Linked DNA regions of Homo sapiens: region 1 is linked to region 2. Evidence: fine-mapped expression QTL. Tissue or cell type: lung. Region 2 holds a variant in brackets; the other region holds the start of a gene. All regions are shown on one strand. Distances are between the middles of the regions.

What was found. PIP is the estimated chance that this variant, and not a neighbour inherited with it, causes the effect.
Region 1: WSB2 starts here. The variant in region 2 is fine-mapped to the expression of WSB2 in lung (TOPMed, PIP 0.94).

What each region holds. Positions count from the first base shown.
Region 1 is chr12:118,057,588-118,065,691 of GRCh38, forward strand. WSB2 (WD repeat and SOCS box containing 2) reads right to left here and starts at 3,592. Exons shown (of 9, transcript NM_018639.5): 1 at 3,449-3,592. The coding sequence starts at 3,461. It overlaps VSIG10 (V-set and immunoglobulin domain containing 10), which reads right to left. Exons shown (of 9, transcript NM_019086.6): 9 at 6,006-8,104. LOC124903030 (a long non-coding RNA gene) reads left to right here and starts at 3,873. Exons shown (of 2, transcript XR_007063479.1): 1 at 3,873-4,093. RefSeq lists a silencer at 3,002-3,051.
Region 2 is chr12:117,952,497-117,960,600 of GRCh38, forward strand. All of the region lies in intron 1 of KSR2 (kinase suppressor of ras 2), which reads right to left. Among named protein-coding and RNA genes, the nearest start is that of KSR2, 12 kb to the right of the region's middle. The variant T/C (reference allele first, on the strand shown) is at 3,707.

The DNA.
Region 1 (8,104 bases), 110 kb after region 2:
ACTGATAAATAAAAATTGTATATATTATGGAATATAACATGTTTTGATATATGTATACATTGTGGAATGGCTCAGTCAAGCTCATTACCATATATGCATTACCTCACATACTTATTTTTGTGTGGTGAGAACACTTAAAATCTACTCTTAGCAAATTTCAAGTATATCATATTCATATATATATTTGGGTTTTTTTTTTTTTTGAGACCCAGGCTGGGGTGCAGTGGCTGAATCACAGCTCACTGCAGCCTCAATCTCCCACCCAGATTCAAGTGATCCTCCCGCCTCAGCCTCCTGTGTATCGGGCTACGGGGGCGTACCACCACACTCAGCATTTTTTTTTTTTTTAAATTAAATTTTTAGTAGAGATGGGGGTCTGGCTATGTTGACCAAGCTGGTTTTGATCTCCTGAGCTCAAGCGATTCTCCTGCAGGCATGAGCCATTGCACCTGGCCCTGGATCAGGGTGTTCTAATTAAACAATGGGATGTGTTTGGACAATCAGGCTGAATGGAAAGGTATATATTATAAGCCTCTTCTAGGCAAAGCAGTTAGCCTTAACACAGAGATGAAAGCTATGACCCCAGCCAGCAGGAAGCTAGGTGATTTTTCCTGTATCAGGACATGTACATTAGATATTCCACCGGCCTCAAAAGCTTTCCTCAGTTGCTCCATCTTATCATTCAGGGATTGGTCCTCATGTCACCTTCTCAGAGACCATCCTGGCCTCACTATCTAAAGCGACCATACACTTTCCTTTTTTATTTTTTATTTTTTTTGAGACAGGGTCTTGCTCTGTTGCCCAGGCTGGAATGCAGTAGCACCATCACGGCTCACTGCAACCTCGACCTCCCCAGGCTCAGATGATCCTCCCATCTCAGCCTCCCCAGTAGCTGGGACTACAGGCACATTCTACCATGCACGCGCCTATAGTTCGGTATTTTTTGCAGAGATGGGGTTTTGCCATGCTGCCTAGACTGGTCTCAAACTCCTGAGCTCAAGTGATCTACCCAAGTTGGCCTCCCAAACTGCTGGGCCACTGCGCCTGGCACCATTCACTTTCCTTTAACCATTTGATTTTCTTTATAACCATCACTTAGATATTTTCTTCTTCTTTTTTTTTTTTTGAGATGGAGTTTCACTCTTGTTGCCCAGGCTGGAGTGCAATGGCGAGATCTTGGTTCACTGCAACCTCCACCTCTCCAGTTCAAGCGGTTCTCCTGCCTCAGCCTCCTGAGTAGCTGGGATTACAGGTATGCACCACCACGCCTGGTTAATTTTGTATTTTTAGTAGAGACGGAGTTTCATTATGTTGGTGAGGCTGGTCTCGAACTCCTGGCCTCAAGTGATCTGCCCGCCTCAGCCTCCCAAAGTGCTGAGATTACAGACGTGAGCCACCCCGGCGCATTTGGTTGATATTTTCTTGATTGCCTGTCATTTTTACGTATTTATTGTCTGTCTCTTTCTGAACCCACCCAAACTTGCCAGTTCACTGCTATTGGGCTACACTGTCTAATAGGGAAATCACATGTGGTTACCAACCACTTGAAATGTGGCAAGTCAGAATTCAGATGGGCTGTAAGTAAAAAATACACAACACGTTTTGAACACTTAGCACAAAAAAAAATCTAAAACATTACATTACAATTTATTTGATTACATGTAGCAGGAATATTTTAGACATGTTGTATTGAAAGAGTTTTTAAATTGTCACCTAGTTCTTTTTTCTTTTTTTTAATGTGGCTACTTGAACATTTTAAATTACATACGTGGCTCACATTAGACTTCTGTTGGTCGGGGCTGGCCTAGAGGGTGCCTGGCACATAGTAGACGTTCAACAAATATTTGCTGAATGAATAAGTGAAGTCTAACCATTGCTCTGAAGATTTCAACTGTTGCCCATTGTATTTCCTTTACAATGGGCTTTATTCCATTTGAAAATAAGTTAAAACTCTGGCCTTTTTTGTACAGTAACTTGGCAGCTCTCAACAACCCTGCCCACACCCTCAAAACGAAGTTGTCAATCTTTAGGAAAACCCCAGAACTGGAAACAGATTTCTGTTAAAAAGGCAGGCTAGCTACAGATTGCTTTCAGATTGAACTGTAAGGAGGCAATGGAAATCAAACGGAAGCTATAAAAAGATTCACATAGGATCTACACAAACAGTAGGGGCCCTTTTAAAAAGAATTCTACGGGTAACACTCACTGAAAAGAAAGCCCTTATCTAGATGGGAAGGAGAGAGAGCTGCCTTTAACTCAATGCCTGACTTCAGCAAACAAAGAAATGTCATTTCCTAAATTAAAAAGTAACACCACCCCAGGGAATACCCAGATTTCAACCTTCCCACCCACAGTAACAAGCCATCAGCAATCAGAACCCTCCAGACCAGGATGAAGCTTGAACTTGGCTGCAAGATTACCATGAAGTTCTGGAACAAATTCTGAGCCCTAGGCCTTGAACCTGCTCTGAAAATTTCTCCTAAGGAAATTACATTTAAACTCGGGTCCTTCAAGACCTGGGACTCCCGGAATCAATTCTAAATCTATCCCAAGTGGGGTTCCGAGGGAAGGTCGTTGGAGGGGAGAGGGCCAAGGCGTGCATGCGTCTTGGGGTTTTTTTCCCCTTGCATAAGAGACACACCTTTCCCACTGAGATTTTATGTTCATCTGGGCTGGCTTGAGGTATATCCAATATCCTCTGACTTCCACGCTGTCTTCTGATGGGGATGGCAGTTAACAAGAATAGAGGCAAGGTCCCCACCCATCAGTGTATCCTAAATTTGCCTGATCATACATGTCACCAGGGATCAGCGTCTCCAGTCCCGCCCCACCTCCACTGACTTAATCTCCAGTGGGAGAGGCTGGGAATAGATTGTTTCAATAGGGAACCCAGACCCCAGACCCCATTTTTACCGGGTCCCAGCCACCCTCCGAGGAAGGTACTAGGATTATCCCATTTTGCAGATCAAAACTGAGACGTGGGTGGCGGTGGTTCAGTGGCTTGTCCACTGTCACGATCACACAGCTTGTGAGGGACAGAGGTGACTCCCATCCAGACATGCAAGTGCGTCCCCTGGCACCTGGGTACCCAGGGGCACCCACCCCCTTGGGGATCTCCGTTTTAGGGCTTGGTGCCCCCCGCCCCGAGTCCCACCCGGGAGCCCCCTCTGTCCCGGTCGGGGGATCTCCTCCCGCAGAAGCCCGATCTTCCCGATCCTGTCGCCGGCGGGAGTCAGGGTGGCGGCCACTGACAACGAAAGTGAAACAAAGCTGGTCGCCGGGCGCGCACCCCCGCCGGCCCCGCGCGGACCTCCCAGGCCGGACGCCCCCGCCGCGTCCAGCCCCCGCCCCACCCCGCCCAGCCCGCCCCGGGGTCGCCTCCCCCCTCCCCGGGGAGAACGGGCCAGGGCCCCGCCGGGCGGGAACGGGCGCGCCCGGCCCCACTCACCTCCGGCCTCCATGGAGGACGCGAGCGGCCCCCGCGGCAGGCGGCGGGCGCCTCAGCCCCCCGGGCCGCGGGCCCTCATGCCGCCCCCGCGCCGCCCGCCCCGGCCAGGCCGCCGCCGCCGCCCGGAGAGGCCATCAGCTGCTTCCCGTCACATGGCGGTGGGCGCGGGCGGAGACGCGCGGGGGCGGGGCGCAGGGGAAACGGAGGGGGGGTGCGGACGGGATAAAAACGGTGGGGGGCAGCTGAGGGAAAAGATGGAAAATCGGGGAGGCGGTACGCTGACGGGATAAAAGCTGAGGGGTTGCTCAGGGGAAACGGGGGCGGGGAAGACGCGCGAACCAGATAAAAATGGGGCAGGGGTGGGGGGAGCTGAGCGGAAACGGGGTGGGGCGCGAACGGGATAAAACCCAGGGGTTGTGCGGGGTCCTGAGGGGAACCAGCGCCGGATAAAAACGGGGAAGGGAGGGAGGTGAACAGAGCTGAGGGAAACCGGGAAAAGGGGAGCGATAGAAACCGGAGTAGGGGAAGCCGGGCTCAGGGGAAAAGGGGGTGTTGGAGAGTGGTAGAGCCGGGCTGAGAGAAAAACCAAGCAGGGGAAGCGGCGATCCGGGGAGAACGGAGAGAGGGAGACCGAGGGCTGTGGGGGTAAGGGGAACCAAAGGGGCTGAAGCGAAATCGAGGGGAGGGGCAGGTGAAAATGGAGCCATGCGAAGGCCGATGAGGGGGGAAACGGGTAAAAATGGGGGCGGGAGAAATAGGTTGGAGGGAATACTGGCCGAGAAGAAACCTGGGGAGAGCTGGGCTTAGGGGAAAATGGGGAGGGGGTGGAAGGAAGGTGTAATAACCGGGTGCTGGGGAGGACGTAAGAATTGGGGGGTGCGGCGAGGGTCAAGGCTAGGGTAAAACAAGGGGGGCTACTCAATGGCTCCGGTAATGGGAGAGGGAAGTGAGGAGAACACGGGGCGGTGGGGAGAGGAGGGCAGGGTGAAAACCGGAGTGGGGGTGGGAACGAGATAAAAAACGGGGCAGGAGCGATTCGGAAGAAGACTGTCCCCTTACCTACCTACGGCGACAGCCTCGCCTGTCCCCGTCCCCCTGAGAAACCTGCTCTCCCTGTCTACCCGCATAGCCTCAAGAAATGGCTCGCTTGGGTCAGACGCCCCCTTTTTAACATTCCAGGGCCAGGGCAGGAGTCATCATGGAGGCTTTTCATGCCTGAAAGACCCCATTTCTTAGTTGTCCGGTCCCCAGTAGTATCAGTGGCTTGGGGATTTCTTACTGAGCTCAGCTCATTGTCCCCAAAATGCCTCCCCTTACCCCCAACTCGAGCGCTTCCCTTTCCTGCTTTGGGCCCAAGCTCTTCCCGCGGTTCTTGGTGTCAGCTTCATTCAAGTCACTCTCCCGCCTCTCATTCCTTTCTCCCCGCCTTTCTTCGCTTCCCTCCAAGTGCCCTCTCCATTTGCCGGTCACTGGTCCCAGAGCTCCGGATCGCAGTGGTTCCATTTTAAATTTCTTTGCTTCCTAACGCAACCTATGTTTTCTACGGTAACTGAGGTTCCCGTGTTCTTTTTCACCATGGTCTCTCCGTTTTAATGTTTCGGGTTTTTTTACCCAGGCCCCTGTTTTATGAGCCCTGGGTACGTCCTTCCTGTGTCCCGTTTGGCCTCCTGGGTTACACTCCTGTTCACCCCGCTTGGCCGGTTTTTTTTTTTCTTTTCTTTGAACCTGCCGGTTTCTCAGTCTCCCCCTTTTCCGCTGGCTACCTGTCCCTTTCTCGCCGCCCATGTTAACTTTAGCATGCCCCGTTCTCTCTCTTCATTTTCCACTGGGTATTTTTTATGTTTCCCAATTTTAAAAACGGCCCAGCGCACCCCTTTTTTTGGGACTCCACTTTTATCTCTGGCACCAGTGTCGGCCTCCTCCACCTCTGCTCCCATTTAATCGCTAATTTCCTGCCTCCTGAGGACCCCCGTTTTATTGTCCAGGCTCCCCCCTCCCATTTTTCTCTTCTCTAATTTTCTGAGTCTCCATTTTTTGTCTCCCAAATTCCTTCGATTCCTGGAGTCTTACAGGCCTCGTTTTTATGTACACGTCATGGAAAAGAATAAAAGGGTAAGGTCGCGGGGCGCGATGGCTCATGCCTGTAATCCCAGCACTTTGGGAGGCCAAGGCGGGCAGATCACCTGAGGTCAGGAGTTCGAGACCAGCCTGGCCGATATGGCCAAACCCAATCTCTACTAAAAATACAAAAATTAGCTGGGTGTGGTGGCGGGCACCTGTAAACCCGGCTACTCGGGAGACTGAGGCAGGAGAATCACTTGAACCCAGGAGGTGGAGGTTGCAGTGAGCTGAGATCTTGCCATTGCACACCAGCCTGGGTGATGGAGGCTCCGTCTGGAGGAAAAAAAAAAAAAAAAAACAAAAAAGGCGGGGCTGAGGTGAGAAGAATATTGTTACCAATTTTTAAAAAGCTAGTAAAAAAAATTTTTTTTGGCAAGTTCGTTTTTCCAAGTCTTTCAATTTACTAACCAGGTCTCAATCAAGATCACAAAAGCACTTACTTAAAAATAGCTTTATTCCATTATCTTTTAAAAAAGGCATATGATAACCTCAGAACTAATTTCTCCCAACCTCCCCCCACCACATCTTAAAATGTAAATAATGGAGAAGGAGCTGCTTATTTTTCTTTGCAGCAGTTCCTGGCCAGTCCCAACGTGAGAAATATCAGTTGGCACTTATTGCATCATAATACATTTTGCCTAGTAAGGATGATTTTCTAAGTCTCAGTGCATGGGTTATTGCAATTTTCCATCTTGTGTTTTCCTGCGGCAATTATGGGGCTTGTATGTGCTTGTGAGAATTGGGGCTAATATCAAAGCCACAGAATTGTGGAGGCCCCCTTCCCAGGCTCCACCAGGGTTTGAGAAAAACAAGAAAAAAGTCAGTTGCAATGGACCTGAAGTGTGTATCTTCCTGGTCCTGATAAATAGATCTCATGGTCTCTAAGTTAACAATACATGCAGATAAGATTTTTTTTAAAGCACAGTGTAACAACTTGGACTTTGCCACACAAACTGTAATCCACTGTCAACAAGCTTGTGGATTTGGGCATGGATCGTCTTAAAGAAGCCCGAATTCTTCAAAAAATCCTTAAAACTTGAAGACCTGGATTTTACCTGACCCAGGATATTACTGTGCACACAGGACTCAGATATGTGACAGCAGTCACAGCTCAGCTGGTCAAAGGTTTATAGTGTTTGACACCAGGACCATGAAGCTCCCATTTGGTAGTGGAAAAACCCTCAAATATTTCCTATCAACAGATGTGTGTGCTAGAGAAGAGGAAGTTGTGGAAAATATCCCAGTGATCCTACAAAACATTCTCTGTGTTCCTAGCTAGGGTTTTTTTTTTTTTTCACCTCAACAGTTTTTGTGTTTTCTTTTTTTAATCTTGTTGCCTCTGAGTAGTAGACTCTTCAATTCTGGAATTTGGTTGCCGAAGACTCTAAAGGAGAGACTCACTCAGTAATTCAGTGACTTTAGAAGCAAGCTGAGTATCTCATTCTAAAATGACACTGATTTACACTGTTGAGAATGGTTAAGTACGTGGGGTACCTTGCAGCAAAAGACAAAAAGCAAAAAGCCAGTAGACCTGCAATTCACAGCTATTCCTGAGGGGTGCACATTGCAGCCCACTCTTGAGCTCCCCAGTGTTCTGAGCAGGGGACAGGGCATACTTCTAGTGATTTGCTCAGTTTAATCCCTTCATCCAAGAAAACAGACCTTCCCCAACCACACCTGCAGGGTTACTTCAGACAACCAGCTTCTCATTTTAGAGTCCCAGTTCCTAGAATTGGAGAAAGGAAGTTCCCCTTTAAGCCCTAGGTCCTGCCCACTAGAGCAGATACGCAACATTAAAGAGTGCAAATTCAAGTCAGTTTTTCATATTTAGCAAACATCCATTGCACCCTTATAAGGTCCTCGACTTTAAGAAATTTATATGAAATCGGAAAACTTAAATCTTGAAACTATACAAGGATCTACTGGAAGCATCAGCAGGCTAAACTCATCACATGGTATTTTCATTCCAAATTTAGTGTTATTGATCAGTGTACCCTCAGAATATCCTTAAGAAGCAGGAAGGAAACAAGTTTTCCTCTTCCCACTTCCAAGACTGAGAAAGAGTCCAGATGAGCTGGTTTGCCCAAGCAATTCTTATCACCAGATACTCCGTTATTAAACGTGTCTCCTGCCTTCTTTGAAAGCAACAGGAGAAATGAAGCATAGGAAAGTCTGCAAGCTAACAGTGTATCACCTAGGAGGCTTGTATATAAATATGAAGCTCTGCAAAATGTAGTTATAATGAAAGGCACTTCCTATTACCAGCTCCCTAACTCTTTTTAAAAGAATTCTATCTCCAGGGAAATAAAACTGGTTAAGACAGTGCTCTGATATGCTTAGTTTAGTTCCTTCATCCAAGAAAACAGACCTTCCCCAACCACACCTGCAGGGTTACTTCAGACAACCAGCTTCTCATTTTAGAGTCCCAGTTCTTAGAAATGGAGAAAGGAAGTTCCCCTTTAAGCCCTAGGTCCTGCCCACTAGAGCAGATACGCAACTTTAAAGAGTACAAATTCAAGTCAGATTTTCATATTT
Region 2 (8,104 bases):
ATTTGTAAAATATTTTTACAAACACAAAAATTAGCCAGGTGTGGTGGCATGTGCCTGTAATCCCAGCTACTTGGGAAGGTGAGGCAGGAGAATTGCTTGAACCCGGGAGGCGGAGGCTACAGTGAGGTGAGATTGTGCCACCACACTACAACCTAGGCAATAGCAAGACTCTGTCTCAAAAACAACAACAACAACAACAACTTTTGGCCGTGCGTGGCGGCTCACACCTGAAATCCCAGCACTTTGGGAGCTGGAGGCAGGAGGATCACCTGAGGTCAAGAGTTCGAGACCAGCCTGGCCAACATGGTGAAACCCCCATCTCTACTAAAAATACAAAAATTAGCTGGGCGTGGTGGCGCACACCTGTGATTCCAGCTACTTAGGAGGCTGAGGCAGGAGAATCACTTGAACCTGGGAGGCAGAGGTTGCCGTTAGCCAAGATTGCACCACTGTACTCCAGCCTGGGCAATAGAGTGAGACTCCATCTCAAAAAAAAAAAAAAAAAAAAATTTTAAAGGCTGCCTTGTGAAAGGACTTGAACAAACATTTCTCCAAAGAAGCTATACAGATGGCCAATAGGCACATGAAAAGATGTTCAACATCATTAGTCATTAGGGAAATGCAAATCAAATGCACAATGAGATACTACTTCACACCCACCAGGATAGCTATAATTTTAAAAATGAAAAATAACAAAAGTCATCAAGGATGTAGAGAAATTGCTGGTGGGAATGTAAAAAACGGTTGCAGCCACTGTGGCAAACATTATGGTGGTTCCTCAAAAAATTAAAAATAGCATTACCGTATAACCCAGTGATTCTGCCCCTGGTATACACCAAAAAGAATTGAAAACAAGAACTCAAACAGATACTCTCATACCAGTGATCATAGCAGTATTACTTACAATAACCAAAAGGTGAATATAACCTAAAAAATGTTCAACTTGATAGATGAATACACAAATGCTGACTATTCATACAATGGACTATTATTTAGCCATAAACACGAATGAAATGCTGATACATCATGAACCTTGAAATTGTATGCTAAGTGAGACACAAAATAACAAATATCATATGATGCTACTTACATGAGGTACCTAGAGTATTAAGTTCATAGAGAAAGTAGGATGACAGTTACCATGTGCTGGGCCAGGGGATGGGAGTACAGGGGAGTTACTGCTTAATGGATACAGAATTTCTGTTTGAAACAATAAAAAAACTTTTAGAAGTTGATAGTGGTAATGGTTACACAACATTATAAGTGTACTTAAGGCCAATGAATTATACACTTAAAAATAGTTGAAATGGGCAGGGCACAGTGACTCATGCCTGTAATTCCCAACACCGCTTTGAGGACAAGGTGGGAAAATCACTTGAGCCTAGGAGTTTGAGACTGGCCTGGGCAAGATGGCAAGACCCAGCCTCTACAAAAAATTTAAAAATTAGCTAGGCATGGTGGTGTGCACCTGTAGTCCCAGCTACTCAGGAGGCTGAGGCAGGACAATCACCTGAACCCAGAAGTTTAAGGCTCCAGCAAGCTGTGATCATGCCACTGCACTCCAGCCTGAGCAACAGAGCAAGACCCTGTCTCAAAAAAAAAAAAGTTAAAATGGTAAATTTTATGTATGTTTTCCATAATAAAAAATTGATTTAAGAAAATCATTTAGAGTGAGCTTGATGAGGTAGCACTCACCCTAAATCTGGACACTGGGCAAAGATGGGGCTGGACAACCTCTGAAGGGTCCCCCCTACCTTTACAGGATATGCTTTTCAGATGCTCAGACATCAGAGTTTTTAACTCTTCACCATGCAAGCTTAAGACAAGTCTAGAAGTTGCAAGGCCCAACCCCATACTTTGTTATCCAACTTAGAGTTGGGATGAGCATGTGGTTTAAAGACTAAGGCCTGCCGGCCACTGATGGGAGGTGCATCGTCTGTGGGCAAATTCAAAGATCCAGACGGAGTGTCAGGAATCCTGTTCCCTTCTGTCACCTGCAGCCTAGTGGGTGTGCCACTATGCTATAGAAGCCTTCTATGGGTTTCTTCTTCTCACACATTTGGGGCTCAGCTAACATTTACTGAATAAATGAATGATACATGCAAGGACGGTATCTCCCCAGATGGCAGTGCAGAGCTCAGCACCACACAGGGCTCAAGTACCCTCAGCTCCCTTCTGCCAATCTGCAGTGGGGATGATCATCAAAAATTGCAAAGCAAGAATTATTAAGAATTTGTGGCCGGGCACAGTGGCTCACACCTATAATCCCAGCACTTTGGGAGGCCAAGGCGGGTGGATCACTTGAGGTCAGGAGTTTGAGACCAGCCTGGCTAACATGGTGAAACCCCATCTCTACTAAAAATACAAAAAGTTAGCTGGGCATGGTGGCATGTGCCTGTAATCCCAGCTACTGGGGAGGCTGACACAGGAGAACCACTTGAACCCAGTACACGGAGGTTGCAGTGAGCTGAGATCGCGCCACTGCACTCCAGCCTGGGCAAGAGAGCGAGACCCTGTCTCAAAAAAAAAAAAAAAAATTTGCCATGTAACAGGCACTCGAATCTACTCAGCCCCTGAATGCATGATTCCATTTAATCACCTAACAACCTCATGTAAAATGATCATTTTATTTTATTTATTTTTGAGACAGGGTCTCACTCTGTTGCCCAGGATGGAATGCAGTGGCACAATCATGGCTCACTGCAGCCTCAATCTCCCTGGGCTCAAGTGATCCTCCCACCTCAGCCTCCCAGGTATCTGGGACCACAGGCATGCACCACTACTTAGACTCAGCTAATTTTTTATTTTTTGTAGAGATGCTATCTCCCTATGTTGCTCAGGTTGATCTCAAACTCCTGAGTTCAAGCAATCCTCCTGCTTTGGCCTCCCCAAGTGCTGGGATTACAGGTGTGAGCCACAATCCTGATTTTATAAACAAGGAAACTGAGGCTTGGCAAGGAAAGATCATTTGGCACAGGGTTACTTAGCTAGTTAAGTCCTGAACCAAATTGGAACCCAAACAATCTCACCTCAGAGCTCAAGCCCTCCTAACTACTAGTCTATATTGCTTAAAGCACCCATTTGAATTTGCAGGGAGTCAGGTTATTATTTCTGAGTCTTGATCTCACTTTTCTGGTTCAGGAAAATCAAACGCATCCATCTTTGGAATGCATGCACTGCTTTAATCAATGGCTGCCTGGTAACTCTCGGGGGATCAGATTTTCAGTCCTCATCAAGACCAAGATTTCTATTATGGCAAAACAGAGAAATCGCTTCAGTGCTCAAAAACAGCTCTGTTCCATAGCAATATACAGTGAGCCACCTTTGTAATTTAAAATTTTCTAGTAGCCTCAGGGGGTAAAAAAAAAAAGGAAAGTACATACAGGTGAAATTAATTTTAATATATTTTATTTAACCCAATATATCTAAAATGTTATCATTTTAACATGTCAATATAAAAATTATCAAGGCCAGCCAGGCGCAGTGGTTCACGCCTGTAATCCCAGCACTTTGGGAGGCCGAGACGGGCGGATCATGAGGTCAGGAAATCGAGACCATCCTGGCTAACACGGTGAAACCCCATCTCTACTAAAAATACAAAAAATTAGCCAGGCGTGGTGGCGGGCGCCTGTAGTCCCAGCTACTCGGGAGGCTAAGGCAGGAGAATGGCATGAACCTGGGAGGCGGAGCTTGCAGTGAGCCGAGA[T/C]TGAGCCACTGCACTCCAGCCTGGGCGACAGAGCAAGACTCTGTCTCAAAAAAAAAAAAAAAAAAAAAAAAAAAAATTATCAAGGCCAGGTATGGTGGCTGATGCCTGTAATCCCAGAACTTTGGGAGGCCAAGGCAGGAGGGCTGCTTGAGCCCAGGAGTTGGAGACCAGCCTGGGCAACATAGCAAGACCCGCACCTCTACAAAAAATTAAAAATTAGCCAGGTGTGGTGGCATGTACCTGTAGTCCCAGTTACTTGGGAAGCTGAGGTAGGAGGACTGCTTGAGCTCCGGAGGTCAAGGGTGCAGTGAGCCATGATTGCACCACCGCATCCCAGCCTGGGCGACAGAGCAAGACTTTGTCTCGCTAAAAAATAAAAAACAGAAAATAGAAATTATCAATGCAATATTTTATATTTTTTTTCCTTCATACTAAGAGTTTGGACTGGGGGTGGCTGCTCACCCCTGTAATCCTAGCACTTTGGGAGGCCAAGGCAGGAGGATCACTTGAGCTCAGGGGTTCAAGGCCAGCCTGGGCAACATAGTGAGACCCTCATCTCTCTTAAAAAAATTTTTTTTAATTTTTAAAAAAAGTTTGGAATCTGGTGTGTATTTGACACTAACAGCACATTTCAACTAGGACTCACCGTATTTCCGTTGGTCAATGGCCACATGTGGCAAGTGGCTGCCATACTGGATAGCTCAGGTCTAAAATATCTCCCTCTCTTTATCTCATCCTCCCCTGTCTCTATGTTTCTACTTTGTTTCTATCAGTCCTCTATTTCTCTCAAATAATTGTCATCCATAATAGTCACCAAGGAAAGCATTTTAGAGACAGATTAAGTATTCCATCATCGTGATTGTCATTAATCCTATGGCTGCCACCTCTAATCACATCATTACCATTAACGTCTACACTTCCCCTTCGCCCTCTGTTTCTCCTCATCTTTCTTTCTTCTCTTCCAGGAGATTTCACCTTTGGGGAGTCCACAGGAGAGCAGTAAACCTCTGTCTGTTCCTGTGTCTGCGGCTGCCTTACTCGGTCAGTTTGGGTCAAATTGGTGACTCTAAACCTCAATAAACCTGCCTGTAAAGGAGCAACAACCACGGTTGTGGTCACGACCCATTGGAAGGACATTCCAAGCATCACAGAAGCCCTGCTGAAGAAAATCGTTCTATTTTTTTACTTTCTTCTCCTATTTTTGTCCCTTTTCCCTTCCCATCTTTCAGCTTCTCCATCCTCCTTCCTGGCCACCATGTGTCTCCTGTCCTCCTCAGCCTCTCAACACCTCCCCTGTCCCCACACCCAGAGCAGCACACGGTGGGCAAGAAGGAAGGCCAGGCCCTATCCCTCTTCCCAACAGTTGGGACCACATGGGTGGAAGCCCAGGAAATGACCCATTCTCTGGGGGTGGAAAGACTTCCTAGTTTTCTACTCATTGAAAGGTGATGGATTACAAATTGCCTGGTAGAATCCACTCTCAAAACCCAGAGGGAGGAGTGAACCCTTCAGACATAACATTTATCATGACTTAGAATTGTGAGTTACACACACACACACACACACACACGCACACCTTTATGAACACAAGGCAAAAGGAAAGGGCCAAGTCCTCACAGGCTGACCACCTTTTTTTTTTTTTTTTTTTAAACTGAGTCTCACTCTGTTGCCCAGGCTGGAGTACAGTGATGCAATCTCAGCTCGCTGCAACCTGCGCCTCCTGGGTTCAAGCGATTCTCCTGCCTCAGCCTCCCAAGTAGCTGGGATTACAGGCATGTGCCCCCACACCAGCTAATTTTTTTGTATTTTTAGTAGAGACGGGGTTTCGCCATGTTGGCCAAGCTGGTCTTGAACTCCTGGCCTCAAGTGATCTGCCTGCCTTGGCCCCCCAAAGTCCTGGGATTACAGGCGTGAGCCACTGCACCCAGCTGAGGTTGACCACTTTGTGCAGAAGACCAAGTATTCCCCATTACCCCAGGTACCAAGGCCCTACCCAGTTAAAAACAGTAAAGATCTCATTCTGACCTGAGACAACAGCCTCCTTAACCCTGAGCTCTTAGACATCAAAACACTCACACTCAAAAAATAAAATAAAATATACACCTGTGCTGAGGGTATGGGGAAATGAACCCTTTCCAACACTGCTGGTGAAGGGCAACTTGGCAAAACCCATGGAAAGTCCTAAACTTTTGCATATCCTTTGATCCAGCAGTTCCATTTCTAGGAGCTGAAAATAAGAATTAGCCACAAGGACGTCCACTGTGGCATTGTTATAAAAATGTAAAAGTATGAACATAAGCACCTGACAATAGAATTTTGGTTAAAGAAATGATGGGGGCCGGGCATGGTGGCTCAGGTCTGTAATCCCAGCAATTTGGGAGGCCTAGGCGGGCAGATCACTTGAGATGAGGAGTTCAAGACCAGCCTGGCCAACATGGTGAAACTCCATCTCTACTAAAAATACAAAAATCAGCTGGGTGCGGTGGAATGCGCCTGTAATCCCAGCTACTCGGGAGGCTGAGGCGCAAGAATTGCTTGAACCTGGGAGACAGAGGTTGTAGTGAGCGGAGATCACGCCACTGCGCTCCAGCCTGGGTGACAGAGTGAGACTCTGTCTCAAAATAAAGTGAGAAATGATGGGGCATCCATGTCATACTATGTAGCCATTACAAATAATACTTTTTACAGATATATAGAAAAAATAAGACCTAGTGTTGAACAAACCAGTAGAGTGAGTACAGTAAACAATAATCTATTGTATATTTCAAAATAGCTAGAAGAGAATAATCCGAATGTTCTCAGTATAAAGAAAAGATAAACATCTAAGGTAATGGATAGCCCAGTTACCTGGATTTGATTATTATACATTATATGAATGTATCTAAATATCACACATACCCTGAAAATATGTACATCTATTATGTATTAATTAAACAATAATAATACTTTAATAATTTGAAAAATTGGTTCATGGTCTATTAAGTGAACTTCGTATCTCCAGCCTTTCTCAGAGCTCCAAGCTCACACATCCAGCTGTCTACTTGACAAATGTAGCATGTCAAACAGGACTTGACTGTCAAACCCAATCTATTCCACCTCCAGTCTTACATTTCAAACAAGGGGACCCCCATTCTCCTAGCACTCAAGCCAAACACCTAGGAATAATCTTCGATTCTTGATTCTCCTTCACATCCACATCAGATTCATCAGCACCTTCCACATACTTGATCTTCTGAATCCAGCCACCTGCCCCATCCACCCCACAACAATCATACCAGTCAAAAGCACAGTCATTGAGGGCTTGGACTTCCACAATAACTACCAACTTGTCTCCCTGCTCTCATTCCTACCTCCTACAGTCTGTTTACCCTGCAGCAATCAGAAGATCATTTAAAAATATAACCCCTGGTTCAAAGGGCTTCTATCACAGTTAGAACAAAATCCAAGGCTGGACATGATGGCTCACACCTGTAATCTCAGCACTTTGGGAGGCCAAGGCATGAGCATCACTTGAGCCCAGGAGTTGGAGACCAGCCTGAGCAACATAGGGAGACCCTATCTCTACAAAATTTTTAAAATGTAGCCAGCGATGGTGATGCACATCTGCAGTCCCCGCTACTTGGGAGGCTGAAGTGGGAGGAAGGACTGAGCCTGGGAGGTCGAGGCTTCAGTGAGCCATGACAGTGCCACTGCACTGCAGCCTGGGTGACAGAGTGAGACCCTGTCTCAAAAGAAAAAAAAAAAAAAAACTTCAAGTACCTTAGCGTCTTAGCAAAGCCCCCTATGACCAGCTTCTGTCTCCCACTGCGTCCCTCTTCATCCTTTCCCTGCCCACTCCCTGCTCTCCAACCACAGTGGACTCCTTGGGGTTCCAATAACATGCCAAGCATGTTCCCATCCAAGAAGTTTGCATCTGCTGTTCCCTCTGCCTGGCACACTCTTCCCCCAAATATTTCATGGCTTGGCTTCCTCAAGTTAGTAAAACCTCCATGAAAGAGCCTTTGTTGATCATCCCATATCTTTCCCTTGCTCCCCTATGCTCTTTTTGTTTTGGTTGATTTTCATGGCTGTGGTATATTGTGACATTAGATTGTTCATTAGCCCCTCAATAAACCACACCTCCTGGAATCCATAGTCACACTGACTCTGGGCTTATCTATGTAACATGCTCTGGCAAAGAGGACATTAGCAAAGGTTGCAGAACCAGAGGCTTAGGAAGGGCTTGCACACTGGCGCCTGTCCTCTAGGAACACCGTTGCTGCCACCATGTAAGAAACCCGGGCTATCCTGCCAGAAAAGCCATGGAGCAGAGAAGTGAGGCACTGTAGCCAACCACCAGCCATGTGAGCAGGGCCATCTCGGACCCTCCAGCCACAGTTGAGCCATCAGATAAACACA